Linked DNA regions of Homo sapiens. The protein of the gene in region 2 interacts with the protein of the main gene of each other region in a pairwise test. Each region holds a gene or a part of one and is shown on either strand. Other genes may lie near its edges.

Region 1 (4,017 bases), on a different chromosome or scaffold from region 2:
ATACATCACAGTGCCCCCGTCCCCACTGATCCAGACCCTGGTGCAGGGGAACATCTTGGTGAGCGATGATGTGCTCATGTCTGCCATGTCAGCCTTCACATCCCTGGACCAGCCCATGCCCCAGGGCCCCCCACCTGTGCAGGTAAGAAGGTGTGGGCTTCTCACAGGGTCTTGATTCCAGACCTGTACATTAACTCCTGCAGATTCAGAATCTTGTAGAATAAAGGGGGCCTGGCCCCAGCTCTCCCTGATGCTGAGGGAGGCTATCAGCTTTCCCTTGTCCAGCTCTGCTATAGATGGGGAAGCTGCTACGTCTAGGTGGGGACCCAGAACATGTGGGGCTTTGTCAATACAGTGCAGCTATTTTGACTTTTTTTTTTGAGATGGAGTCTCACTCTGTTGCCCAGGCTGGAGTGCAGTGGCACGATCTTGGCTCACTGCAACCTCTGCCTCCTGGGTTCAAGTGATTCTTCTGCCTCAGCCTCCTGAGTAGCTGAGATTACAGGCATGTGCCACCACAGCCAGCTAATTTTTTTTTGTATTTTTAGTAGAGACAGGTTTTCTCCATGTTGATCAGGCTGATCACGAACTCTTGACCTCAAGTGAGCCCCCCACCTCAGCCTCCTGAAGTGCTAGGATTACAGGTGTGAGCCACTGTGCCCAGCCAATTTTTGTATTTTTAATGGAGACGGGGTTTCACCATGTTGGCCAGGCTGGTCTCAAACTCCTGACCTCAGGTGATCCTCCCACCTTGGCCTCCCAAAGTGCTGGGATTACAGGATTACAGGTGTGAGCCACTGCACCCAGCCTGACTTTTGTTTTTGTTCTTTTTTTTTTTTTGAGACAGAGTCTTGCTCTGTTGCCCAGGCTGAAGTGCAGTGGTGCGATCTTGGCTCCCTGCAACTTCCACCTCCCAGGTCCAAGCAATTCTCCTGCCTCAACCTCCTGAGTAGCTGGGATTACAGGTGTGCGCCACCACGCCCAGCTGATTTTTGTATTTTTAGTAGAGATGGGGTTTCACTGTGTTGGTCAGGCTGGTCTCAAACTCATGACCTCAGGTGATCCACCTGCCTTGGCCCAAAGTGCTGGGATCACAGGTGTGCGCCACCGCGCCCAGCCTTGTTTTTATTCTTAACAAGTGTCCCATGTCTATTAGAAAAATAGAAAATGCACAGTAGCTCCCTGGGATTTAAAAAAAAAATTTTTGTAGAGATGACCATCTCCCTTTGTTGTCCAGGCTGATCTTGAACTCCTGGGCTCAAGGGATCCTCTAGTGTCGGCCTCTCAAAGTGCTGGGATTGTAGACGTGAGCTACTGCACCTGGCCAGGATTTTTTAATACAAAAAAGATCTGTGGCCAAAGGAACCTAAGGTGGAGGTGTTTTACTTCTCCCCTTGCTGTGTCCCTGGATTCTTCCTGCCATATAGAAATCCTTTTGATTTTCTCAACCGAGACTTTTTTTTTCCCTGTTTGGGAACCCAACGAACACAGTGAAGAAGAGGACCCCGTGTCCTTTATGAAATGCTGATCAGCATCATGTTTTTATTTTTGAGACAGCGTCTCACTCAGGTCACTCAGGCTGGAGTACAGTGGTAGGATCATAGCTCACTGTAACCTCAAACTCCAGGGCTCAAGCAATCCTCCCTGCTCAGCCTCCTGAGGAGCTGGGACTACATACATGGTGCCAACATACTTGGCTAATTTTAAAAAAAAATTTTTTTTTTTTTGAGATGGAGTCTCGCTCTTGTCACCTAGGCTGGAGTGCAGTGGCACCATCTCGGCTCACTGCAATCTCCGCATCCTGGGTTCAAGCGATTCTCCTGTCTCAGCCTCCTGAGTAGCTGGTATTACAGGCACCCGCCACCATGTCTGGCTAATTTTTGTACTTTTAGTAGAGACAAGGTTTTGCCATGTTGGCCAGGCTGGTCTTGAACTCCTGACCTCAGGTGATCTGCCCACCTTGGCCTCCCAAAGTCCTGGGATTACAGGCGTGAGCCACCGTGCCTGGCCTAAAAAAATTTTTTTTTAGAGACAGAGTCTCGCTATGTTACCCAGGCTGGTCTTGAACTCCTGGGCTCAAGCAATCCTCCTCCCTCTGTCTCCCAAAGTGCTGGGATTACAGGTGTGAGCCACTGCACCCAGCAGTACCATCATTTTAACAACTGCAAAGGATTCCACCATATGGATAGGCCATCTTCTGCTTAGCCAAGTTTCTATGTATAGACATGTAGGTCATTGCTGTTTTTTGCTTTTATGAAAATGGCTGGAGTCACTATCCATAAACAGACATCTTTGCCCACCTGCTTGATTTTTTTTGTAGCATAAATTTCTAGAAGTTACTGGCTGCGTTTCACGACTACCCACACATTCATGATTCTCTCAAAAGACTCACGGGACTCAGAGGTAGTTGTACTCATGGCTGTGGTTTATTACAGCAAAGGAACACACAGCAAGATCAGCAAGGGAAAAAGACACATCAGGTGGAATCTGGAGGAATCCAGAGTTCTCTGTCTTGGGGAGGTGGGGAGAGGTTGCACAAAACACACTTCTTCCTGCAGCAGTGAAGTCTAGCAACATGTGTGCTGTGTTTCTACCCAGGGAAACACACTTCAGACTCCAAAGCCAGGGTTTTGTTTGTTTGTTTGTTTGTTTGTTTTTCTGAGACAGGGTCTCACTTCAGCTGCCCTGGCTGGAGTGCAGTGGTGCAATTTCGGCTCACTGCAACCTCCACCTCCCTGGGCTCAGGTGATTCTCCCACCTCAGCCTCCCAAGTAGCTGGGACTACAGGTGTGCACCACTATGCCTGGCTAATGTTTTTGTATTTTTAGTAGAGATGGGGTTTTGCCATGTTGCCCAGGCTGGTCTCAAACTCCTGGACTCCACCCGCCTCAGCCTCCCAAAGTGTTGAGATTACAGGTGTTAGCCGCTGCACCAAGCCCAAGGCCAGGGTTTCTGTTAGGGATTGGTCATGTAGGTGACCAGCCACCATGACCAAAATTCCAGACTCCCAGAAGAGAAGGAAGTGTTCACCATGAATCACATATTTTGTCCAAGCAGTCTACATAATCTGGTACAATAGAACAGTGCCCCAGGTGGGCAAAATAAGCCTTATCAACAAAGGAGATGTCCCACAAACCAGATTCTCAGATCCCAGTCACGAGCTAGTGCTGCAAGCAAGCCCCCCCCCCTTTTTTTTTAATTTTATAACTTTATTTGAGGTATTTGATGATCAGCGATTAGTTCTCATCCACATTGACTGTCTGTAGATTTTTGAAAGTGGTAACAGGTACATAGGTAACCAAAGTATAGAGCTTATTTGGTGGATCTTCATCCTCATAACATTTTCTGGACAACCGCACACGGATGCAGTATGGGACATTCTTTATTCCTTTGTCTCAGACAGCTTTGTTGAGGCTGGTATCAATGCACACATCTGGAGTTCCCATCTCCTTCATGGCAAGTTTCCGAATCTCTTTGAGTGCCTGAGGAGCACGCTTCTTGAAGCCACTCCATGGATGCACTTGTGAATGTTGATGGTGTATTCTCAGGTCACCACCTCATTGATGGCCGAATGACCCTTTTTCTTCTCGCCACCCTTCTTTCTGGGAGCCATTCTGCTGGGTCCAAGATGGAAAGGGAAGCCCTTCTTAAGATAGCAACATTAGGCTGCTATATTAACTCTTTTCTGCATGAATGAGGTCATTTTTGCCTATTTTCTTTTCTTTTTTTTTTTTTTTTTTGAGATGGAGTCTTGCTCTGTCACCCAGGCTAAAGTGTGGTGGTGCAATCTCCACTCACTGCCAGCTCCGTCTCCCAGGTTCACACCATTCTCCTGCCTCAGCCTCCCGATAGCTGGGACTACAGGCGCCCGCCACCACGCCCGGCTAATTTTTTGTATTTTTAGTAGAGACAGGGTTTCACCATTAGCCAAGGTTGTCTCGATCTCCTGACCTCGTGATCCGCCCGCCTCAGCTCCCAAAGTGTTGGGATTACAGGCGTGAGCCACTGCGCCCGGCC
Region 2 (4,590 bases):
TGTGGTTTTAATATTTAAAAATGTATAATGACATATGTTTACCACCATAGAATCATCCAGAATTGTTTTACTGCCTTAAAAGTTCTCTGTGCCTGATCTATTTATCTCTCACTCTCCCCAACCTTTGGAAACCACTGAACTTTGTACTGTTTCCATACTTTTGCCTTTTCCAGAATGTCATATAGATGGAATTATGCAATGTATAGACTTTTCAAATTGGCTTCTTTCACTTTGTAATATGTATCTAAGTTTCATCCATGTCTCTTTGTGGCTTGATAGTTCATTCCCTTTTAGTGCTGAATAATATTTTATTCTGTTAATTTATCCACTCTCCTTCTGAAGGACATATTGCTTGCTTCCCAGTTTGGGCAATTATGAATAAAGCTACTATAAACATTTGTGTGCAGGTTTTTTTTGTGGACATACCGTTTTCAACTCATCTGGCTAAATAACAAGGAGCGCACTTGCTAGATCATATGATGAAAGTATGCATAGCTTTGTAAGAAACTTACAAACTGTCTTCAAAAGTGGCTGTATCATTTTTCATGTCCATCAGCAATGACAGTGTGCTCCTGTTGCTCCACATCCTCATCAGTATTTGGGGTTATCAGGGTTTTTGATTTTGACCATTCTTATAGGTATGTAGTGGTATCACATTATTGTTTTAATTTGCAAGTCTCTAATGATATGTGATGTTGACCATCATTTCATGTACGTATTTGCCTTCCATATATATTATTTGTTGAGGTGCCTGTTTAGATCTTTTGTCCATTTTTAATAGGGTTGGTCAGTTCTTATTGTTCAGTTTTAAGACATTTTTGTATGTTTTGGTTAACAGTCCCTTATCAGATATGTCTTTTGAAAATAATTTTTTCCCAACCTGGGAGTTATCTTATTCTCTTTGTGGTATCTTTAGCAGAGCAGAAGTTTTAATTTAGCGAAGTCCAGATTATCAATTATTTTCTTTCATAGATGCCCATCACATTTTATACCAGAACTAGAAAAGATGAAATTCTTGGTCTGAAGTTGCAGTTATCAGTCAGCAGAAGAGACAGTCCACAACCCTGCTTGGAGTCCAGATGAGGATCCTGAGTGCAAACTTGGGACCTAAAGAGCCCAGGACAGAGAGAGCACTAAATGCTTCTAGGCAGGGGTGGTGGGTTGAGGGGCCCCTAGACTTCCCTCATCTGGGTCCCAGAAAACTAAAGAGTCAATTTCACAACACCAATAGAGGGAGGCTCAGGCCCTGCCAAGAGCTGACATGACAATTCTAAAGGTAATCAGAGTGGATCCTCTCCAAGCCAGAACACAGAAAGCCCCACTGCGAGCCTTGTTGTCACCCAGTCAGCCCCAGGCAGGGTTGGCAAGCTGCAGCCTAAGGCACATTGTAACTTCCTCAGCTGGCTTCTCAGGGGACAGAATGACTAAGAACAATAGCCCAGTGAATACTTAGAGCAGTGTTCTCAAGGAATCCTGCAGAGGCGGCTTCTGAAAAGCCAAGGTAGTATCTGCCTGCTGAAGGTGTTCTCAGGATTTCATTTGCTCTTCTCCAGGAACCACATCACCTGCCCTTCTGCCTACACTCCTGCCTGCTGTGCCTAACCACAGCCATCATGCCTCGGGGTCAGAAGAGTAAGCTCCGTGCCCGTGAGAAACGCCAGCGGACCCGTGGTCAGACCCAGGATCTCAAGGTTGGTCAGCCTACTGCAGCAGAGAAAGAAGAGTCTCCTTCCTCTTCCTCATCTGTTTTGAGGGATACTGCCTCCAGCTCCCTTGCTTTTGGCATTCCCCAGGAGCCTCAGAGAGAGCCACCCACCACCTCTGCTGCTGCAGCTATGTCATGCACTGGATCTGATAAAGGCGACGAGAGCCAAGATGAGGAAAATGCAAGTTCCTCCCAGGCCTCAACATCCACTGAGAGATCACTCAAAGATTCTCTAACCAGGAAGACGAAGATGTTAGTGCAGTTCCTGCTGTACAAGTATAAAATGAAAGAGCCCACTACAAAGGCAGAAATGCTGAAGATCATCAGCAAAAAGTACAAGGAGCACTTCCCTGAGATCTTCAGGAAAGTCTCTCAGCGCACGGAGCTGGTCTTTGGCCTTGCCTTGAAGGAGGTCAACCCCACCACTCACTCCTACATCCTCGTCAGCATGCTAGGCCCCAACGATGGAAACCAGAGCAGTGCCTGGACCCTTCCAAGGAATGGGCTTCTGATGCCTCTACTGAGTGTGATCTTCTTAAATGGCAACTGTGCCCGTGAAGAGGAAATCTGGGAATTCCTGAATATGCTGGGGATCTATGATGGAAAGAGGCACCTTATCTTTGGGGAACCCCGAAAGCTCATCACCCAAGATCTGGTACAGGAAAAATATCTGGAATACCAGCAGGTGCCCAACAGTGATCCCCCACGCTATCAATTCCTGTGGGGTCCAAGAGCTCATGCAGAAACCAGCAAGATGAAAGTCCTGGAGTTTTTGGCCAAGGTGAATGACACCACCCCCAATAACTTCCCACTGCTTTATGAAGAGGCTTTGAGAGATGAAGAAGAGAGAGCTGGAGCCCGGCCCAGAGTTGCAGCCAGGCGTGGCACTACAGCCATGACTAGTGCGTATTCCAGGGCCACATCCAGTAGCTCTTCCCAACCCATGTGAGATCTAAGGCAAATTGTTCACTTTGTGGTTGAAAGACCTGCTGCTTTCTCTGTTCCTGTGATGCATGAATAACTCATTGATTTATCTCTTTGTTGTATTTTCCATGATGTTTCTTAAAATAGAAAGTTTATTTAGATTCAGAATATAAATTTAGAAATGGCATGCATCACACATTTATTGCTGTTTATCAGGTTGGTTTAGTGATAATAATTTTGTTTTTGAAATACAAATAGAAAATCCTGAAATAATTTTTGTGATACAGAGCAAAATAACACGGCATGGGAGTAAGGTTATCCTTAGAAATTTAAAATAACTCCACAGTAAAATAGGTAGAATCTGAAGATAGAAAGGGAAGAAAAGTAAAAGTTGCTTTATTCGTGGTTTGTCTTACTCAGTTCAGTCTTTTTTTGCTCATAAATTTAAAAGTTACATACCTGGTTTGCTTAGATTATTCAAGAATGTGGAGGCCTGGGCCAAGGTCAATGACAGTGTCTCCATTGTCTTCCCTCCATTAAGAGAAGACTTTAAGAGATGAGGGAGAGAGAGCCAGAGACAGTGTTGCAACTGGGCCTGGCATGTTTCAGTGTGGTGTCCAGCAGTGTCTCCCACTCCTTGTGAAGTCTGAGGTATATTCTTTACTTTTGATTAAGAAAACACTTAACCTTCTAATTAATGGAGAGCCAAAGGGGAGTTGGTGGGAACACCATGTATAACATATTTGTATGTAAAATGATTTATCTTTTCTTTTTCCTGTTTTTCAGTGTTCTTTTTTTAAATTGTAGATTTATTTAGTTTCAGAATCTAAGTTTATGAATGGCATGAATCACTCATTTATTAAAATATATCAGGTTGGAGAGTGAGAATTTTTGCATTATGTAAAACAATTTAAAAATCTTTTAAGTCTTTTTCTGTGATCTAGAACAAGATAATATGGCATTGGAATATGGAATTTGTGAAAAGGAAATTACCTTGCAATAAAGTTGGTGGGACCAGGAAGTAGAGAAAAAAAAAGTAAAATGTGGTCAATTCTTGCTTTGTTTTATTCTTTTTAGTCTTTCTTTGTAAAACTGAAGTATATGTACCCGGATCTGCTTAGCTTTTTCAGGAATGTGGGGGAAATTAAATAGCAATACATTTGACTTCCTGGTCACTTACACTTCAATTGTCCAAATATTAATTGAGCAGCTGTACTTTGGAGGGCTCCTGGCTAGTACCGGATAAGCTAAGAAAACAAAAAACAAACAAACAACAAAAAAACCCCAATCCCTGCCCACAGAATTTTAGAATCCAACAGCAGCTATCATATAACGAAGGTAATGAGATACTCCTTAAGACCTAAAGACAGGTGAAAAGGGGATAAAAAAGAAGGTGGGGGTATTACCAGCAGTGGAATCTAGTGTAAATGTCCTAAGCAAGGTAACTGAGACTTCGGGAAACTGAACATACTGCAATAGGAGGTAATTTTATGTCCTGGCATAGTGCCTATATGGGGCGCACTGAGCAGGGGTCACACACTCAGATGGTGGATCTCACACTTGAGAGATGGAGACTGGAATGAAAAATTGCCTTTAACAGTTACTTTGGGATTGTGGAAAAACCAGAGGGGATCTTTGCCTGGAGCAGGGATTGAAAGTGGCCGGTGCTCTTGTCCCAGTGCAAGTGAAGTGAATCCAGTACACAAACTAGGTGTTTTATGAGCGTAGTCCCCAGGGTGTTTCTGAGAAATAAAGGTGATACTCCTTTAAGACTGGAAACTCATAAGCCACTGGGCTAATACTCTGCTATCAGCTGGGGAGCCAGAACCCATTCCATTAAAAGGAATTTTTTTTCCTTTCATGTGTTTTTGCAAATTCTAAGGGAGATCTAGATTTTTGATGGTGGTAAAATGAATGAAAATAAGACTGGTTTGGATGAAAGGTCAGAGTTGGTCCTTGAA
Region 3 (4,298 bases), on a different chromosome or scaffold from region 2:
TGTGGGGAAAAAGTGGTGATCAAAACTTTGCAATACAATAATGGACCTTTTTAAATCTAAAAATGTGAAAATCAATGCATCAATTTTCATACTTTCTCTTTTAAATTTTCTTTCTTTTGATCCCCAATATATTATCAGTATAATCAAATGACATTAGTATTAACCAACATCAGCAGTCTGTATTCTGTAAGGAATTGAGCTCATACAATGAATCACCTCGAGTATTTTTTAAACACAAAATTACAACAATTTATAAATGTTAATCTTTAAAATGCACTTGAGAATGATTGTCCCAAAGGTTAAGTGGAAGCTTTTTCAAAAAACAGATCACAAGGAACTATGCCAACCCTTTCCTAAAAATTTCTATAAAATTCAAAGGAAGAAATAAACAGGAAATCTAGTTTACAAATGAAATTTAATATAGTAGTCGTATATTTATAGGCCAAGAGCTCATACGTAAAATGTGTGAAGGAACACAATGGTCAGATATTGAGATGCTGGCAACTGCTCATCTGCCAATGCTGAATTTGGTAATTCCTCATTTATACAGAGGGAAATTAAGTACCAAAGGGCTAGAATAATTTACTTATTGTGGACAAAAAAGTTAAGGACAAACTAAACTTAGTCCAGATAATTCTCAGATCCTCACACACATAAAACAACTTGCATTTATTTTATTTTTATTATTTATTTATTTTTTCGAGGCCAAGTCCCCCTCTGTCACCCAGGCTGGAGTGCAGGGGCATGATCTCGGCTCACTGCAACCTCCATCTCCCAGGTTCAAGTGATTCTTATGCCTCAGCCTCCTGAGTAGCTGGTACTATAGGCGAGCACCACCACGCCTGGCTAATTTTTGTATTTTTAGTAGAGATGGGGTTTTGCCATGTTGACCAGGCTGGTCTCAAACTCCTGAGCTCAAACAATCTGCCCACCTCAGCCTCCCAAAGTGCTGGAATTACAAGCGTGATCCACCATGCTTGTCCTTGTATTTCTTTTAACAAGAGAAAGACTGTGTCTCTTCTGTTCTCCTTTGTCTTCAAGAACTGATTTTTATAGTTTATTAAATATTAAAATTACATAGCTTGTTATAAATTAATTTGTATTTTGCAGACAATAACCATTATAAATATCACTTAGATCTGCAACTATTTTTTATTAACTTTACTGTTTGCATTAAAAAGACAGCACTTTTCGGGTACAGTTAGATAGTCCAATTCAACAGTAAGAACCATTTTAACTCCTAAAACTGAACAACTGTATTAGTTATGAACACTAGATACAAGTCATGAAACTCCAGCTTGAATTTACTTAGGCAAAAAGAGATTTTATGAGAAGGATATCAGAATATTTCATGTACATAAACAAGAGCAAGGCCTGGAGTCTTATACAGCTTGACCCCAGGAACAAGGAAGCGAAGCACCCTCCCTCCCTCCCTCCCCTTTTGTGCTTTTAGTGGTTCCGTTTCAGTCACCTCCATTAGGGTGTGGGCTTTCTCACATGGTGACCACCAGCAGCTTCCAAGCCCCTGATCCACAGCTTCTACTGGCAGAAATAGTCATCTACTCTTTTAGTGCCCATTCAAAAATCCTAAGGACAAACCCATCTGCCTGCCTTGAGCTGCATGACTATATCCAGGAAGATGGAATACCCTTAGTCACAGACCACCTAAAGGGCATGGTTAGAATCCAAGTAGAAACAATTCTCCACAAGAAGCAGGGCAGGCTGCTGGACAGACAAACTGAGAATAATCAAGTAAAACAAAACAAGCACAAACTCTGAAAGCTCAGGCAATGCCAGAAAGGTCAGGTGACACAAGGTTGAATACCGAAAGTTGGCATTAAAGCATTCTTTGAGTGAGAGAGACAGAGAGAGATTTATCTATAGTTATATTTTACTTCTATGTCCCAGTAAAAATAACAAATAAATAACTTTAAAACTTGGTAATACATCATTTTTCTCTCCCCTCTCTTAGATGTTTTTCTGTCACCTTCCCCTGTCATTTGTTTTGGGTCTATAAATTGCCCCTCAAAACTTATGCAAAGCATAATGTGTTCATCAGAATTGTTTCAGGGTTGTATGCGTTAGTTTTAGGATCCAGAGCTTCGCGTGTGCTTTTTTTTTTTTTTTTTTTTTTGAGATGGAGTCTTGCTCTGTCACCCAGGCTGGAGTGCAGTGGCAGGATTTCGGCTCACTGCAAGCTCTGTCTCCTGGGTTCACGCCATTCTCCTGCCTCAGACTCCTGAGTAGCAGGGACTACAGGTGCCTGCCACCACGTCTGGCTAATTTTTTGTATTTTTAGTAGAGGCAGGGTTTCACAGTGTTAGCCAGGATGGTCTCAATCTCCTGACGTCTTGATCCGCCCGCCTCGGCCTCCCAAAGTGCTGGGATTACAGGCGTGAGCCACCGCGCCCAGCCCTTGCGTGTGCATTTCTTTATTCCGGATTCGCAGCATCATCTTTTGGGCTTTGGGAGTCTGATGTAATTTCCAGTTCATACTCCTTTTTCAATTGCTGCACTTTCATGTTTAGGTCCAGTAAAGTTCTAGCCAGCTGGTGGTTTTGGAAATGCATTTCCACCTAAAAGTTAGAAAAAAATAAAAATTTTATTAGCCTGAGATGCAGATCAAATGAAACCACTCTCTGACTACACAGAAGAAATAAGAAGTTTGTAGGAAAAGAAAATAAGATATCAAGGAAGATGTATTTCTCATCTTATTCTCCAGTTTTAACTGTTTGGTCTGGCTATAAAACTGACTTTCTATATGACAAGGTAAAATCCAGATATATAAATAGTTTTTGAAATGGCTTGAAATGAAAACAAAAGTAGCTGATGCACAAAGCTGTCCATATGAAAAATACCTATGCACCGAAGGCTGTTTTCAAGGAATAGCATGTGATCCACAATGAAATCATTTATCTTTATGCGCCTTCTGAGCCACAGGATAACTGCCTACAGCCACCTGAGTATTCAGAATCTGTGCTATTTACTTGATTACTTATCATTTCAAGTTTTCAGGATTTTAAATGGTCTACCTGCTGAGCAAAAACATTTAATGACACCTTAGAGACACATGTATAGTTATGTGTACTTATATAATCTAACATTTTTCACTCTGGAGTGAAATCTGTTTCATATCAAGGCTGATTTATACCATCCTTCAATGGGAGTTTATGAAGGTCCTCGTGCGTTTAAAAAAAGATCTCTAGGGCATGTTACCCGGGGGCAGTCCAAGAAAGCTTAGTCCAACATAATCTTTGTATTATAACTGAAAACTAATGATCAACTACTTGCAAATTTCTTCAGCTAGGGCTTGTTTAATGCAGTTCACGAGGAATTTGTTCTCTCTGCTAAAAAAGCTTCATCAGCTTGTCAATAGAAACCACCCCAGGATGAACCAGGACAGTGTGTTGGTAAAAAGCAAATATTCATGGTCATCTGATTTGCAAAATAAAGCTACTGGATAAAATTATCTTTCAGTTTTTCTCTGAGACATTCCTCTCCATTCTGAAGCACCTAGAATCATTTTTCTGACAGCAAGAATTAGCAAAGAATAAAGTAAATGAATATCCAGCAAACAAGCACTAACAGTAACCACACAACCACCACAACAAAAAACCCTTGCACCTTGCCTGCAGGAAGCTTCAGCTCTCTAGGGTGGCCCAGATGCTCTATAATCCTGCCCTACTTTGAGCTTCCTTTCCTGGCCCTCTTTCCCATGCCAGCTCCCATTGCAGCTGGTCAGAAACCTTGCCAGTCCCTAAATAAATGCTGAGCTGAAGCTCACCTCTTTCTGTCCCCATTTCTGTTTAAGATGCCCTTTGCCACCTCTCTCTGCTGAACCCAGTCAAATGCCAGCTCTTCTGAGAAGCCCTCCCTGATTGCATGGGCAGACATAATTGCCTCTCATCTGTGCATCCACAGCACTCTGTACAAGTGCCTCATAACACGCTGACCAGACGAGACTGATGATTTTGAGGGTAGAGGCTGTATATTATTCATAATTGTATCCCCAACTAAGAGTGCACTGCCTGGGCACACAACCTAGTAGGTTCTCTGTGTGTTTGTTATAAGAGTGAGTGAATTAATTAATTAATTAATTAACTGATGAATATCCGTCCTGTACTTTCATGCAAGAATCAAGGAGAAAAATTATTGGTAATGATTTACCATCTAAGTAAAATAAGTATGTATAATTCACACTTACTTAGGAAATTCAAACATCAATGGTTCTTTAACTTTTCTTTCATCAAGGATCCCTCTGAGAATCTGATGAAAGTTATGAACCCTCTCTGAGGAAA
Region 4 (3,316 bases), on a different chromosome or scaffold from region 2:
GGGAAGGAGGGAGGGAAGGGAAGGAAGAAATATATCTATCTCTGGAGGCCTATGAAGGGAATTGTGGTCTATGTACCTGCAAATGTATATAATATATTTTTTAAGTTTTATAATATATATCTCTTTAATATTATTTTCCTCTATTTTCTTTCTACTAACTTATATAATCATTTAAACATGGCCATGGAAGGAAAAGGAGGAAAGGAACTAAAGGAGGCATATGTTACAGACTGAATAATAAATAACAAGGAGAGAGATTATAAGAATGTAAATTCCTAGGAATTCAAGATGCCACCAGTTGTGCTTTTTGTTTGGTTTGGTTTTAGTTTTGGTTCTGTTGAATGTCAAGGTCATGGGCAAATGTGAGATATTACAATATAGGTTGGTGATTTTCTGAATAATCCATAAGGCTAACATGGTAATGAAAATAAATCCATTAGTAGAGTACTTTATGGTTTACTGAGAAGTTTCTTTACATACATGATCTCATCTGTCCTACAAAGTTCTGTGAGATAGGCAATGTAGGTTGTATTATGGCTGTTTCACAGATGAGGAAACAAAAGCCCAGAGAGGCTGAATAGCTCACCCTGCTGTGAAGTGCTAGAATTGAAATTCTAAACAAGATCTTTCTTCCATTGTTCTCTCAACTACAAAAAGTATCCAAAGATGAATACGCAACCCCCTCTAGTACCTGGTTGAAAAACAAAACAAAACAAAACTTAGGAGAACATCGTTTTCATAGCCTAATATCTTCACCTGTGTTCATACTGATTAATGTGTGCTGTTGTTTTATCATTTCAGGATTTGTAGGTGAAAATGCCCAGCCAATCCTAGAAAATAATATTGGAAACCGAATGCTTCAGAATATGGGCTGGACGCCTGGGTCAGGCCTTGGACGAGATGGCAAGGGGATCTCTGAGCCAATTCAAGCCATGCAGAGGCCAAAGGGATTAGGACTTGGATTTCCTCTACCAAAAAGTACTTCCGCAACTACTACCCCCAATGCAGGAAAATCCGCCTAAGAAAAGCAAAGAAGAAATGTTTTACAGACTTTATTCACTATGTCCCATTGTTCTAAAATGATAACATGACTTCTGTTTTTGAAGCAAAAATCTACATTGCCTCAAACACATCACTCTAGCTTCCTTACTGCATACAGTCCTGCCATAGTGAGAGAAATGGGATTTCATCACAATTCATGGTGCTAAAATGAAAACCTCTGCACTTTAATTTTTTTCAGTAATTTCCAGCTATTTCTAGGTATAAAGAGCAGCTCGTTTCTCTTATTTATTTTAGTCTCATGTGTCAATACTTTCCGATGCTTTGCTTAATTCATGTATGTGTGCAGTGCTGCAATGCCCAGACAAACGTGAGCACACCCACCAGTTTCTAAAATGGAATAGACAGGAAAAGATTGTGTTTTATATCATCCCTATCTATTGTAACCCAAAAGACCTACCATCGCATCAGTGAAGTCCGAACACATCTTTGTTTGAAAGGCTTGTCAATTTCATATTCCTTGAATTGGCTTCTTGGTGAGGATTTTCTGACAGAGTGATACCCATCAATTTTCTATCCTTAGACAATGTAGTGTGAAGTTCACAGTTGACAAACAACAATTAATGTTTCCCTTGGATGTTTTGACAAAAATAAACCTCATCGTTGTTATCACCAGAGTGCCCTCTACCTTACTTTAATGCAGATTTTATAAATTTTACCTCATTTAGAACATAAAATAATTATTGAAAGAAAAATGTATTTTTTAAATTCACCGTGATTGAACTGTAAATTCTATTAATCCAGATGTACTTCTACCTCTGTTTTCCCAAAGATTGATATTATTTTTAAGATCAACTCAAGTGTAGTAAACGGATTTAAAATTTTAATCATTGGAGTAATTTATTACAATATTGAATCAATTTACATGAAAAGTTAAATGGCTCTCCCAGAACTCAGATTTCTGGCAATGACCCAACCCATTTAGAAGGTGAACAAAAGAAGTAAATGGTACTGATTTGCCCTTTCTAGGACCCAAGATGTTACTTTAAAACCTAGCAAAAGAGGTCGTTTGTATTACGTGCCTAGTATTGAGCTGTTTCTGAGTCATTTGCTTCATAGTATCAGAAATTCTAAATTGCTTTTAGTTTAGAAGATCTTTATTTATTATCTTCATTATTAACAACTTATTATGATGATGATTATTATCATTCTATTTATAATGGCCTTTGCTGGTTGAGTAAAGACTGAGATAACACATGTGAATCACCTTTCTAATGGGTTTTTAAAATCTTGTCACTTTCCAAAAGAGTTTTTTTGTTTCTTTTTTTTTTTTTTTTTTTTTGACAGAGTCTGCCTCTGTCGCCCAGGCTGGAGTGCAGTGGCGCACTCTCGGCTCACTGCAGCCTCCCCCTCCTGGGTTCAAGTGATTGTTCTGCCTCAGCCTCCCAAATAGCAGGGATTACAGGCACCCACGACCATACCCGGATAATTTTTGTATTTTTAGTATAGACGGAGTTTCACCATGTTGGCCAGGCTGGTCTCGAACTCCTGACCTCAAGTGATCCGCCCACCTTGGCCTCCCAAAGAGCTGGGATTACAGGCATGAACCACAGCGCCCAGCCCCCAGAAGAGTTTTTAAAAGGTGTTAAAGGAGGTTTATGCACGTAACAGACCTTTCTCAGGTGGTCCCCTAAAAAAAATCCTGCCAACTAGGGAGGGGAAGTCCAACCTGCTATTTGAAAGCCTTCACGGTTTGCCAAATGTACATTTCTTGAGAATTATCTTCTTTCCCAGGGATATTGTACCTAGAGGACAGGTTGGTTAGGGAACTATGGACGACCAGAAGAGATGTTCTTTTGAAGCATTCTTACTGGATAAAGTAACCCCATGGTATCATTACTTTCTACAAGTTTTTTACTTACAAATTTGCCATTTTTTTAACTGATATTTTCTAAATGCTCATTCTGTCTATGTAGCCGGGGGGAGATTATATACAAGTTTTAAAACTTCTTTGTGATAGTGTATTGTGCTCTGGGGTCTATTCAAAATTTGGTGTTTGAGGTTTTGTTAATTTGATTGCCTGGAGATCTGCTAAAATCCTAGAATCTCAAAAAGCCAAGTTTGAAGCCACTGAGAGCAAACAATGAGGTCATTGTTAGCCTGGTTCCACACTCCTGAGGACTTGGCTGTTCTTTTTCACCTTATTATGTTCTAATGGAAGTAAAAACCCTCATAGTGAAGAAGAGCAGTATATACACCAGACTAGTGTATAGGAACTTCTTCATTAAATATTGCAGTCCTTATGAGTGCTCTTTAT
Region 5 (4,017 bases), on a different chromosome or scaffold from region 2:
CTAATGGAACCTAAGAATTAGCATCCCTGCACCTGGAAGCAGGGCCAGAGGCCCCCTATAAAGCATTCCAGGCAAAGCACCATGATGCCAGGGCAGCAGGAAGAGTTTCCCAAGGTGACAGGTCCCTCTTTGCCCATCCTAGAGCTGGAAATTTTCCCAGGAAGGGTTTTCCCATAGTCAAATCAACAAAGACCCAATGACTCTCTGAAGAATTCCCAGGGTACCTCTCCATGGTGCTATTTCTTACACCACCATGGACTGGTTATGTAACATCTGGGTAGGTTTTTCCCCTTTACTGTCTTTTTAAAATTTTTATTTAAATTTTTCTTTTAGAAAGAGATAGGGTCTCACTTCATTGCCCAGGCTGCTCATGAATGCCTGGGCTCGAGTGATCCTCCCATCTTGGCCTCCCAAAGTTCTGGGATTACAGGCATGAGCCATCACGCCTGGACCCCTACAGTCTTGAATTCAACCTGGAGGTTTTTTCTAGAGATTCCCAATTCATGATCTAACACCACCTTCTACCATTTTCCTATATATTATCTCCTTTCCTCTGCTTGACTTTACTGACCCACTTGATGGCTCTCATACCTTGTAACCCAGAGTAATCTGAGAGACCTAAACTACCGGATGGTTCAGAGCTCTTCATTTCCATTTCTGCACGGAGGGAGGCGATCTCCATCTCATAATCTCCCCGAATGCGTTCCATGTCTTCAAGTTCATTCTGCATCCGGCAGAGATCCTCCTGCAGGGATGCTATGTCACTCTCATGTTCAGTTGCGGAATCCTCTGCTGCTTGCCGCAGACTCTGGATCTCAGCCTGGGCCAAATGCAATTCCTGTTCTATTTCCTTAAGTTCGCTTTCTTTCTCATGCTCTAACAGGGAAATCTCCTCCCGTAGAGAACGCAGCTCACCTGCAAAGTCCAAAGGTTGAGATGATCAAGAGGGCAGGTGAACTAACCTACCATGTTCTAGAGGCACAAAATTAAAGGGAGACTTATTTCTTGTCTGCAAAGTCCTGAAAACCTTGTCTCTACCCCATCAGAGAAGTGTAGCATCATGCCGGACGGAATAAAAGGAGTACCTAAGAAGGGAAAAGAGAGTGACTCTATGTAGTAAGGTCCAATAGAAAAGTAGATTTTGAGGCCTGGCACCAAAACAATCACTTAGTCTACTGTAAACAAAAAGTATTTCATGCTTCTAAGGAATCACCTGACAGTTAAAGACCTAACTTCATTTATAGTATTTTCTTGATGCCCTGAATCTTTCTAAAAATCCCCTGACTCAAAAAATGTATACAGACTATTTTCACCTATTCATCCTGAGAGCTCAGAAATTACAGAGCCTCAGAGTTCCCATGACCTACCTGTGGTAAGTACTGGACCTAAAACAATGTGCATTTAGAGTTCACAACTCAAATTCAAATATAAGTTCACTGCATAATAACCAAACACGGGATAATAATCTAAGTGTCAGTCGATAAGGGATTGTTTAAATTGATGATAGGCTGGGAGCAGTGGCTCACGCCTATAATCCCAGCACTTTGGGAGGCCAAGGCAGGTGGATCACTTGAGGTCAGGAGTTCAAGACCAGCCTGGCCAACATGGTGAAACCCAGTCTTCGCTAAAAAAAAAAAAAAAAGAAAGCCAGGTGTGGTGGCACGCCCCTGTAATCCCAGCTACTTGGGAGGCTGAGACAGGAGAATCATTTGAGCCCGGGAGGCAGAGGTTGCTGTGAGCCAAGATCGCACCACTGCACTCCAGCCTGGGCAACAGAGTGAGACTCGGTCTCGAAAAATAATAACAATAATAAATAAATAAACTGATGATAGTTAAATAGAATATCATGCAGCCATTTAAAAGAAAGTATCAGATCTATGGTGAAAACAAAGAAGTTTCCATATTAACTGAAGAAAAAGAGCTGTAAAATATATGCTATGATCTAATTTTTGCAAAAAATATTTTATGTATAGTATATAACACACAAATGGACAAACATATAGAAAAAGGCCTGGAAAGATCTATGCCCAAACCATAATGAGTAGTTGTTTCTGAGGTATGGGATAACATGTGGTAAGGTTTTTACTTTACATATCATATCTATCTGTGCTGTTTGGATTTTCAGAACAAGCCTATATTTTCTATTTTTTAATTTACAAAATAATGAGTTAAGAGTTCTCTGTATCTATGGAGCATCTCAGAGTTTCTAGACACATGTACCCATCTGGGATCAGAACGAAAAAGTGGAGAGAGTAAAAGGCACTGACACCAACAGTGAATTTAGGATTTGAGGGCCAGGATTAGAGAATTAATGAGGATTGGGTTGGGAGGGTCAGGATTTTCCCATAAATCCTTTGCAAGGCACATTCTCCCATCCCCTTCCCCCAACTTCTGCTCATTCTACTCACCACTCAGATGTCAACTTTTCTAGCCTGTACCTCCACTTCCTCAAAAAAAAATAAGAGAAGTCCTCTATTAAATGGTCTCATAAAACCTTGTACTTTGCTATATGTGTGTGTGTACTTAAGTCTCCCCTTCACTTGGTTATAAGCTTTATCGAGGCAGAGAGCATATCTGGTTTGCTCACCATTACAGCTCCAGGATCTAGTATTGTGCCTGAAAACGAAGCTCAATAGATATTTGATGTATTCATGCATAAGTAAGGCAGCAGTTCATCTATTCAACAAACTTTTGCTAAGTATCTCTTATGTGTACAGAACTAAACATTTGGGGTTTGGGGGGTTTTCCTTTCTGTTTTTGAGACAGTCTTGTTCTGTTGCCCAGGCTGGAGTGGAGTGGCATGATCATGGCTCACTGCAGCCTTGACTTCCTGGGCTCAAGCAATCCTCCCTCCTCAGCATCCCTAATATCTGAGACTACAGGCATGGGCTACCATGCCCTGCTTTTTTTTTTTTTTTTTTTTTTTTTAATGTAGAGATGGGGGTCTCTTTCTGTTGCCCAGGCTGGTCTCAAACTCCTGGGCTCAGGCGATCCATCTTGGCTTCCCAAAGTGCTGGGATTACAGGCATGAGCCACCACACCTGGCCCTGTTTGGATATTTTTTAAAAATTAGAATAGAATCTAGACTTTCAAAGAAGACAAATTTGGACACGCTTCATAGATAGATGCTGAGTGGTGAGGGCATCTCAGGGGAAGATCTACCCTGCTCCCCTGAGCTCACATGTGGAACTATGGGCATGTCTTTTGCCAATCTTTCCAGTTCTAGAATGATCCTAGCTGTTACGTCTCCTTGATCTATTCAACAACTATTAACTGATCCTTAACTGCGTGCCAAGGCCAAGAATCTCCTGTTAGATTCTCTGACTTCCTATTGGAAGAAAAGTCCGCTCTACCCCCACTACTGAGCAGCACAGTGAGGTCTGTCTAGCTAGGGAGACACAAGAGGAAGCTGGCCATTAGGACAAAGGCCCTAGAGTCTGGGGTGGGTGTTCTGGAGAAACAGACCAACCTCCACCTCCCTAATATGCTTTTGATGTTAGGGTTCAACTCTCTCTTAGGTGCTTCTGGCCCTAAAAAAATGGTATTGTCGGCCAAACACGGTGGCTCACACCTTTAATCCCAGCACTTTGGGAGGCTGAGGCTGGTGGATCACTTGAGATCAGGGGTTGGAGACCAGCCTGGCCAAAATGGCGAAACCCCATCTCTACTAAATATACAAAAATTAGCCGGGTGTGGTGGCTGGCATTTGTAGTCCCAGCTACTCGCGAAGCTGAGGCAGAAGAATTGCTTCAACCCAGGAGGAGGAGGTTGCAGTGGGCCAAGATCTCGCCACTGCACTCCAGCCTGGGTGACAGAGCAAGACTTCGTCTCAAAACAAACAAAAAACTCTACTGAGGAGAGAATCGCTCTGGAACCCTATTTTCGGCCGGGCGCGGTGGCTCACGCCTTTAATCCCAGCACTTTGGGAGGCAGAGGCGGGCGGATCATGAGGTCAGGAGATCGAGACCATCCTGGCTAACACAGTGAAACCCCGCCTCTACTAAAAATACAAAAAAT
Region 6 (3,370 bases), on a different chromosome or scaffold from region 2:
TAACCTGGTCCCATGGGTGCGCCTGTCCTGGGGCATTGGTGCCATTCTGGGGGCATGTCTCTTGCTGTGGATCTCTGCCTCCCCCTAGTAAGAGCTCTGTCTTCCTCTTTCTATAGGAAAAGAAGGCAAGCCACCAACATCAGGAAGCCCTAAGGCGGGAGATAGAGGTGAGTGGAGGGTGTGAAGTTCCCTCCTGTCCTCTGGAGAAGGTTTTTTTGCTTCTCTTTCAGCACTTGCTTGTCTTTTCTCCCAAAGGCCCAGGATCATACAATACGAATTCTCACGTGTCAGAAAACTGAACTGGAGACAGCGCTCTATTACAGCCAGGATGCTGCCAGGAAATTTGAAGATGGGAACCTGGGCACCCCATCATCCTTCAACCTGGCACTTTCACAGGCCTTTAGGGGGAGTCCTTTGGGCTGTGTCTCAACCTCTCTCATTCCAGGAGAGTCCAAGGATCTCGCCGGCCGCTTGCATCATTCCTGGCACTTTGCAGGAGAGTTACAGCGGGCTCTCTCTGCTGTGTCCACATGGCACAAGAAGGCAGACAGGGTAAGTCCAATCACCTCCCCAGTCTCCTGGGATCCCAGCTTCGCAGATGGAGGAATGAGCCTAAAGGTCCCTCCTGCAGGATGCAGTGTCCTGCCCAGAAGATAGTATGGGTCATTTCTTGCTGCTTTTGTGTGTGGTTATTAGAGGCAGGTTGGGGCTGAGTCAGCTGCTGTGGGTGAGTTGGGGGGCACTGTGGGGAGCGAGCACTGGACACAGAGCTCCAAGGCCAAGAGCCTGCCCTGCCCATACTTGGCTGTGGCCTTGACCAAGTCCTAGGCAGGGGTTAAGGTATTTGTACCATGAAGGTACAGAAGAGTATCTTTAGTATGTTACCATTTGTGTAGAGAGAGGGAACACACATAAGTGTGCATGTGCGTGTGTGTGTGTGTGTGTGTGTGTACGTATTATGGTAACATACATAAAAACATATTTGTAAGGATTCATAAAAAACTCAGGAGACAGGAACAGTGTGTGTGGGGTAGATATTTCCCTTCTCTACCTTCTGAGTTTTGGACTATGCCAATGTATCGTTCTTTCAAAAAGTCAACAAAGGATTAATTTCCTCCTTCTTATCTGTGCCCCTACCCCCAGGGAAAGAATGGGCTTAGAGAATCAGATACACCTGGGTGTTGAAATCCCAGCTCTGTCAAAGTGATCTTAGGCAACCATTTAACTTTTAATACCCCATGTTTTGCATCTATACAATAGAGGTAATAATGGTAACCGTCTCCTATGGAGGTTGTGAGGATTAAATGGGATTGTTAGCATAGTGCCTGGTGAAGCACTCAAGAAAGGTTCCAACAGTGGCAGTAATAACAGTAATAGCAATAGCAATATTATCTGATCTCTCTGGGCCCCTGTTAGCCAGCTATCAATTCAGTCTCTTTCCCTGTCCCTTCTACCCTTACTGAGTTCTCTGAAAAACAAGTGAGAGCCAGGTGTGGTAGCGCATGCCTGTAATCCCAGCTACTTAGGAGGCTGAGGCAGAATTGCTTGAACCCGGGAGGCAGAGGTTGTCATGGGGCGAGATTGCGCCATTGCACTCCAGCCTGGGCAACAAGAGCAAAACTCCATCTCTAAAAGAAGAAAAGGAGAAAAAAAAAAAGAAAAAAAAATGAGACCATGGGCTTGGAATTGCCTTGAGAACATGTCGGGTGTGATGGAGAGTGAGGGAGTGTTACTGTGGAGTATCAGTGTAGCTGTTGTTCCTGGTCGGCCAGCTGCTCTTCTGCCTGCTCTGTCCTGACTTAACCTTTCTCTATTTGCAGTACATCGAGGAGTTAACAAAGGAGAGGGACGCCCTGAGTCTGGAACTGTACAGGAACACGTAGGATGGGGGAAGGTGGGATGGGAGGTCTGGGGGCCCTTAGCGTGGGTGGTGTGCTGGGAGGTGGGGGGTACAGGTGAGCATGGTAGGGGGTCATACAGGTTTACATGTGTGCACAGGGAAGCTCTAGTGCCGGCTGTGCCACTGACTCATGGGGTAGCCTCAGGCAACTCATGTCTTCTCTCTGGCCTGCCACCTGGGACTTTTAATTCCTGGGGTCCCTTCCAGTGCCACGGTTCTGTGCTTGTGGGGCGAGAGTAGAGGGTTGATCACCAAAGCAGTCCTTTCTGTTCTTCGTTCATTCCTTTCTCTACTGCCTCGGGCCATAGCATAACCAATGAGGAGCTGAAGAAGAAAAATGCCGAACTACAAGAAAAACTTCGACTTGCAGAATCTGAAAAGTCTGAGATCCAGCTCAACGTGAAGGAGCTAAAAAGGAAACTGGAGAGGGCCAAGTTCCTGCTGCCACAGGTGAGCGGCTGCAGCCCCAGGGGTTGTGGGAGACCCATCCAGCTAGGACCATGGTCTAGGGATCATGCAAGGTATGGGGAGGGTCCAGCCAAGAGCTGGAAAATTTGGGTCCTTGTTCTGGTCCCACCATAGAATCCTCTAGAGTGTGCTAAAAATCTACAAATTTGGGGCCCTGCCTGGGAAATCAGAACCTCAGTGTTAAGGCTTAAAAATTTTTTTTAAAGAATCATAGATGAAAACTGTTATTTTATAGATTACATTTATATAGCTAGTTCATAAGTCTATTTCCTTTTGAGGTTCAAACCAACACTTTGCAGGAGGAGATGTGGAGGCAGGAGGAGGAGCTACGGGAGCAGGAAAAGAAGATACGGAAGCAGGAGGAGAAGATGTGGAGACAGGAGGAGAGACTGCGGGAGCAGGAGGGGAAGATGCGGGAGCAGGAGGAGAAGATGCGGAGACAGGAGAAGAGGCTGCGAGAGCAGGAGAAGGAGCTGCGGGAGCAGGAGAAGGAGCTGCGGGAGCAGAAGAAGCTGCGGGAGCAGGAGGAGCAGATGCAGGAGCAGGAGGAGAAGATGTGGGAGCAGGAGGAGAAGATGCGGGAGCAGGAAGAGAAGATGTGGAGACAGGAGGAGAGGCTGTGGGAGCAGGAGAAGCAGATGCGGGAGCAGGAGCAGAAGATGCGGGACCAAGAGGAGAGGATGTGGGAGCAGGACGAGAGGCTACGGGAGAAGGAGGAGAGGATGCGGGAGCAGGAGAAGATGTGGGAGCAGGTGGAGAAGATGCGGGAGGAGAAGAAGATGCAGGAGCAGGAGAAGAAGACGCGGGACCAGGAGGAGAAGATGCAAGAGGAGGAGAGGATACGGGAGCGGGAGAAGAAGATGCGGGAAGAGGAGGAGACGATGCGGGAGCAGGAGGAGAAGATGCAGAAGCAGGAGGAGAATATGTGGGAGCAGGAAGAGAAGGAGTGGCAGCAGCAGAGGCTGCCGGAACAGAAGGAGAAGCTGTGGGAACAGGAGAAGA
Region 7 (4,794 bases), on a different chromosome or scaffold from region 2:
TTTGCCGCTCCAGGTCGGCCCGGATCTCAGACAGCTGCTCCTCCACGTTGCTGATGAGGCTCTGCATCTGGGCCAGCTCCGTGCCGAAGCGGTCCTCGGCTTCACACAGGGAGTTCTGCAGACAGTCCTTCTGTAGTGGGAAATAAGGGGATAAAATATACAAGGCCCCAAGGGAAACTGCTACATGCCTCAAATTTTGATGGTGATAACAGGTGGGAGAAACTTGGGTAGTGAGACCTCCAAAATAAAATGCTACTAGGCCATGGCACGGGGCATTTGCAGTGCAGTGAGAGTGAAGGACACGTACCAAGGTGTGCTGGGCTTGGCGCTCCACCTCCAGGGCATTCACCGTGCATCTCAGCTCCAGGATCTCCGACTGGCAGCACTGCAGCTCCTCGGAGCAGGACATGTCCTGCAGGCTGATGCCTTCAGACTGGAGCACAGAGAGACACGGTCACCTCCCTGCCCAGATGGAGGCCAGGTACCCCCTGGTTCTATACCCCCCCCACTCACCTGGGCTTGGAACCACTGTTCCACATCCTGGCGGTTGGTCTCCAACATGGCCTCATACTGAGCCCGCATCTCCCCCAGCACCCTGTTCAGGTCAATGGTGGGCTCAATGTCCAGCTCAATCCGGAGCTTCTCCCCCAGCTGACTCCTCAGAATCTTTACTTCCTGCAGAAGGGAGGAAGGGACAGACAGCCTGCATGAGGAAAGGGCCTTTGATGGAGCAGACAGCACCAGGACCCCGCCCCTGGCAAGCAGTAGGAGGGGAGTCCCACACACAAGCAAATGGGAAAGTCTTGCCCAGAGGGCATTCGGGAGAGCCCACCTGCACACCTTCCTCATGCCCAAGGCAAGTCTGCACTTTCCACAGAGGCCCTCTGGACCCTCAGACCCACCTCAGCCCTGCATCCTGATGCCAGCTGAGGCCAGGCAATGCTCTGAGAGCCCGGGGCTGGGGAGCTCCCCTGTCTGCCCAGTGCCCTCCCCAGGAGTTTGAGCGCCCAGGGCCACACCTGCTCGTGGTTGCTCTTGAGGGAGAGCTGCTCCTCCTTCAGGGACTCCTGCTGGGCCTCCAGGTCGGCCTTGGCCAGGGTCGCATCATCCAGGAGCTTCTGTGTCCCACACTTGTCTGCCTCCACCAGCTGGCGCAGGGAGCGCTCACTCTCCAGCCTTTCATCACAGGAGGTACAGGGTCAAAAAGAATGCCCCCAAGAGCCCCTCTCGGCTGCCCTGGCTTCCTACCTCCCACACCACCTTGGATCCTCATTTATTCACTCTGTTTAGCCCTCTGTCCTCAAAGGTGAATTAGACCCAGCCCCTCTTCTCAAAGAGCTCATGGTCTAATGGAGAAATCACAACACTACATTGCACAATATACATTTTTGCCATTGTATTCTGTGGCAACTGCAGTTCAGGAAGATCAACTGACTTGCGTAAGATCATGCATCTTGGGACCCAGTCCAACGCTCATGCCATTGCAGGGGCTGTCAGTTACCAAAGATAAGCAATAACCAGGTGCCTGATCGTGATCTGCGGCTCCTTATCCCTTGCTTTCAGCTGTCTTCCCCTCTCTCATTTTTGCCTAGGTACCTTATACCTGGTACCTTAGGGCTCCCTAATTAAATCTGGACAAAGACTCATCTGTAAGTGACTCCTCTGACTTATATATGAAACCCAATGGCTGTCTTGCTCAGTTCATCCTTCAAATCACCTCATTTTGCTCCTGGTTAATGAACTCAGGCTGCCTTATCCTCCATTTTAGGGAAATAAATGAAGGAAGACAAACATATATGCTTGGATTAATGAGGAGTTTTCCCTTCCATCTTCCATCAGCTTCGATTGTAATGAAAATTTTACTGTAGAGAATCTAGCAAGGAAGAAATGACAATGATTCCCTCACTCAACAAGTATTTGGGCATTGGGATGGAGGGTGGGGAAGGAGTCACCCTGGCCCTCCTCCGCCTGACTTACTTGATCCTAAAGTCATCGGCAGCCAGCTTGGCATTGTCAATTTGTACAATCAGCCTGGCATTCTCGGCCTTGCTGCACAGGATCTGAGGAGAACAGGAAGACAGTTCACACACAAAGCATCATGCCCTAGGCTCCTTCTCCACGTGTGGTGTCTATGATCATGTCCAAGAGAAACCAAGAACCCAAAGTTCTCTGAGCTTTACATGGATTCCTCCTGTCTTGCCTCTGCCATCTCAGACCCAGCACACCCAAGCGATCCCACACCTCACCTTCTGTTGGAGCTCCTCGATGGTGTGGAAGTAAGACTGGTAGTCGGGGCACACGGTGGACTCGTGGCACTTGCTCCTCTCGAGGAGTGTGGCCTCCAGCTCCGCATTCTCCTGCTCCAGCTGGCGCACCTTCTCCAGGTAGTTGGCCAGGCGGTCATTCAGGAACTGCATGGTCTCCTTCTCATGGCCATTCAGGGTGTTTTCACCATAGGCCCCACAGATTCCAATGTTGCCAGGAATGTGGCAGGTCCCTGGCAAGGGACAAGCAGTGTGGCAGGTAGGCGGCAGACAGAGGCTGGGGCGGCCCAGGGGAGTGGACCCCACACGGACTCGGTTGGCATGTGCCACGTTGGCCAAAAGGCACATGGGGGCAATGTTGGCCTCTGCCCCAGGCTGGCACCCAATGTCGATGGGAGAGACAGAGACATTTCTTGCTCCAGGAGCCATGGTGCAACCCAGAGGGCATGAGGAGCTGCTGTAGGAAGAGGTCATGGTGTTGGGCTGAGGCTGCACAGGAGCTTCAGATCAGCTGGGAAAGCTGAACCACTGAGACTGAAGCCTCCTCTCCTCCCAGCCCTTTTATACCCCATCCTGGGCGGGTGTTGGCTCCAATGCTTTGACCTCCTGCCTTGATTATCTACCTGTTGTGGTGCCATCATCCTGTTACTCAGCTGCTGAGTTTACCATGAAAAGTTTCTCAGCTCGTTAAAGGAATGTTGACGAATCTGAGGCCTCTTGGCTCTTTGAAATCAGGTTGGCTGTTGATGGGAGGTCAGAAGCTTTTTATTATCTTTCAAAGAAGCAAAGTTATAGCCATCAGATGCTTAGACCTTGACTGGGTTTGGCCTCTTTATGGATGTGTCCACTCTGGAGACACAAACTTTCCTGTTGGTCAGTGGTGTAGCAGGAGGACTAACCCCGGTGATGACAATGGTTCTCACTTGGGTTAAGACTCAACCAGCCTTCCCTATCCAGGGAAGAAACTGAGTCTTGGAATTGGTGGATGTTATGGCCTTGGGTTATCAAGAAGTCCTACATTTCTTCTTTCTTTAGTTGGTTGCCTTTCAGACTCACTTTGAGGAGCAACAAGACTTAGATGAATCCAGTCACTCAAAACACATCCCCTGGCTACGTCCCATATGCTACGCACCTTGCTGATGCTTGATATATAGTTGGTTAAGCACAAAATAGTTCCTGCCATTGGGGAACAACTGTAACTTGGGTAGACGTGATGTTTCAAACAAGGTATCTGAGAAGCTCATGAAAATGAGGATGACTCCAAAAACCATGGCTTATCTCGACCAAGAAGGGCAAGCTCAAGAAGCCAGAAATAAACAAAGAGAAATGAGCAATAATCTTACTGAACCTCAAATAAGAACTTGGTCATGAAAGTCAAAGGACATTGAGTGATCAGAGCCTCTGTGGGCTCTCTTCATACCTTGCTTCCTTTATTCTAAAGTCAGTCATGAGCCTTCACCCTATGAGCTAGGGGATTGAGCAATGATACCTTTTAATCTTTACTTCCAACCTGGGAGGTGGGTACTCTTAATTTTACAAAATAAATAAACAAGCCATTGAGGACAGTTTTCTAAGATCAACCTCACTATAAAGTATAAAGCCTATTCTCAACATCAGCTTCTTTCAACTCCAGAAACTGTTTCTTCACCTTGACCACCTCCAAATCCTCCACCCCAAGGATAACTACTGTGTCATTGCTAGAACTAAGAAGGATTCAAATTCCTAGAAACCGGGCAAGAAGTTGAAATTAAGATGTAAAACAAAAATCTGACATTGTGTATTTTTCCCTTTGTATCTCAGAAAATACAGATGTGGAGGTATTCATACAATAAAACAGAGTTTCTCCAAGGGCTAAATCAGAAGATGCCAGGGGAAAGTCCTGTCCCTAAAATGGTTATATTACACATTCCACATTCAGATAGTTCTTGGTACTAGGGATCCAAGACACATGGCTGCTGAGATCCCAAAACTTTTCTCCCAAAATTTGTGACAGAAGATACATAGACCCCTGAGACTAAGAAAAACCTAATGTGGAACAATCCAAAGTGATTATAACTAGAATTTTGGGAAAATGAGTTTTTGCCAGTCCCCTGAGCATTGAACAAAAGCTGAACATACACCTCTATAGGGATCAGACGTGCATATGTGAAACACAGGCTATTGGAGTTCTATCAAGAAGAAATACAGAATCTGAGAATTCAGTCCAGATTGGGCTTCTCAGGAAAGTAAGTAGTAGTGAGCGCTGACCTAAGGGTTATTCAGAGCTCACCAATCCATAACCCTTTACAGACAACATCATTGGGAGACATCACCAGGGCAGGCTGTCCCATCCTCCAGAGGCCACTGGGTGCAATCTGCATATGTTACATCTTCAAACACCCTTTTGTTACTCTCCTCCGCCTCATCACATAGCAACAAGCTTCTCTATAAATCAGAGAGCCAGGCTTTTAAAGTCATTTCCTTTGATTTGCTAAGTAGCACCCATCTTTTGGCTTTATCCTCTGCCCAGATTCATTCCATGGACTAAAAG

What was found.
Region 1: the proteins of MAGEB4 (region 2) and ZNF341 interact in binary tests that used the Homo sapiens proteins (3 or more experiments, as listed by UniProt).
Region 3: the proteins of MAGEB4 (region 2) and AARD interact in binary tests that used the Homo sapiens proteins (3 or more experiments, as listed by UniProt).
Region 4: the proteins of MAGEB4 (region 2) and GPATCH2 interact in binary tests that used the Homo sapiens proteins (3 or more experiments, as listed by UniProt).
Region 5: the proteins of MAGEB4 (region 2) and CCDC136 interact in binary tests that used the Homo sapiens proteins (3 or more experiments, as listed by UniProt).
Region 6: the proteins of MAGEB4 (region 2) and GOLGA6L2 interact in binary tests that used the Homo sapiens proteins (3 or more experiments, as listed by UniProt).
Region 7: the proteins of MAGEB4 (region 2) and KRT38 interact in binary tests that used the Homo sapiens proteins (3 or more experiments, as listed by UniProt).

Annotation. Positions count from the first base shown.
Region 1 is NC_000020.11:33,748,931-33,752,947, forward strand, and holds part of ZNF341 (zinc finger protein 341), read left to right. Parts: coding exon 1-142; intron 143-4,017. UniProt on the Homo sapiens protein: Transcriptional activator of STAT3 involved in the regulation of immune homeostasis. Also able to activate STAT1 transcription.
Region 2 is NC_000023.11:30,240,523-30,245,112, forward strand, and holds MAGEB4 (melanoma-associated antigen B4), read left to right. Parts: upstream 1-1,477; 5' UTR 1,478-1,613; coding exon 1,614-2,654; 3' UTR 2,655-3,665; downstream 3,666-4,590.
Region 3 is NC_000008.11:116,940,836-116,945,133, reverse strand, and holds the end of AARD (alanine- and arginine-rich domain-containing protein), read right to left. Parts: intron 2,577-4,298; coding exon 2,433-2,576; 3' UTR 647-2,432; downstream 1-646.
Region 4 is NC_000001.11:217,428,851-217,432,166, reverse strand, and holds part of GPATCH2 (G patch domain-containing protein 2), read left to right. Parts: intron 1-801; coding exon 802-1,022; 3' UTR 1,023-3,316. UniProt on the Homo sapiens protein: Enhances the ATPase activity of DHX15 in vitro.
Region 5 is NC_000007.14:128,798,084-128,802,100, reverse strand, and holds part of CCDC136 (coiled-coil domain-containing protein 136), read right to left. Parts: intron 916-4,017; coding exon 592-915; intron 1-591. UniProt on the Homo sapiens protein: May play a role in acrosome formation in spermatogenesis and in fertilization.
Region 6 is NC_000015.10:23,440,959-23,444,328, reverse strand, and holds part of GOLGA6L2 (golgin subfamily A member 6-like protein 2), read left to right. Parts: intron 1-116; coding exon 117-167; intron 168-255; coding exon 256-552; intron 553-1,820; coding exon 1,821-1,879; intron 1,880-2,208; coding exon 2,209-2,350; intron 2,351-2,646; coding exon 2,647-3,370.
Region 7 is NC_000017.11:41,438,184-41,442,977, forward strand, and holds the start of KRT38 (keratin, type I cuticular Ha8), read right to left. Parts: upstream 2,801-4,794; 5' UTR 2,739-2,800; coding exon 2,247-2,738; intron 2,061-2,246; coding exon 1,978-2,060; intron 1,177-1,977; coding exon 1,020-1,176; intron 676-1,019; coding exon 514-675; intron 434-513; coding exon 308-433; intron 131-307; coding exon 1-130.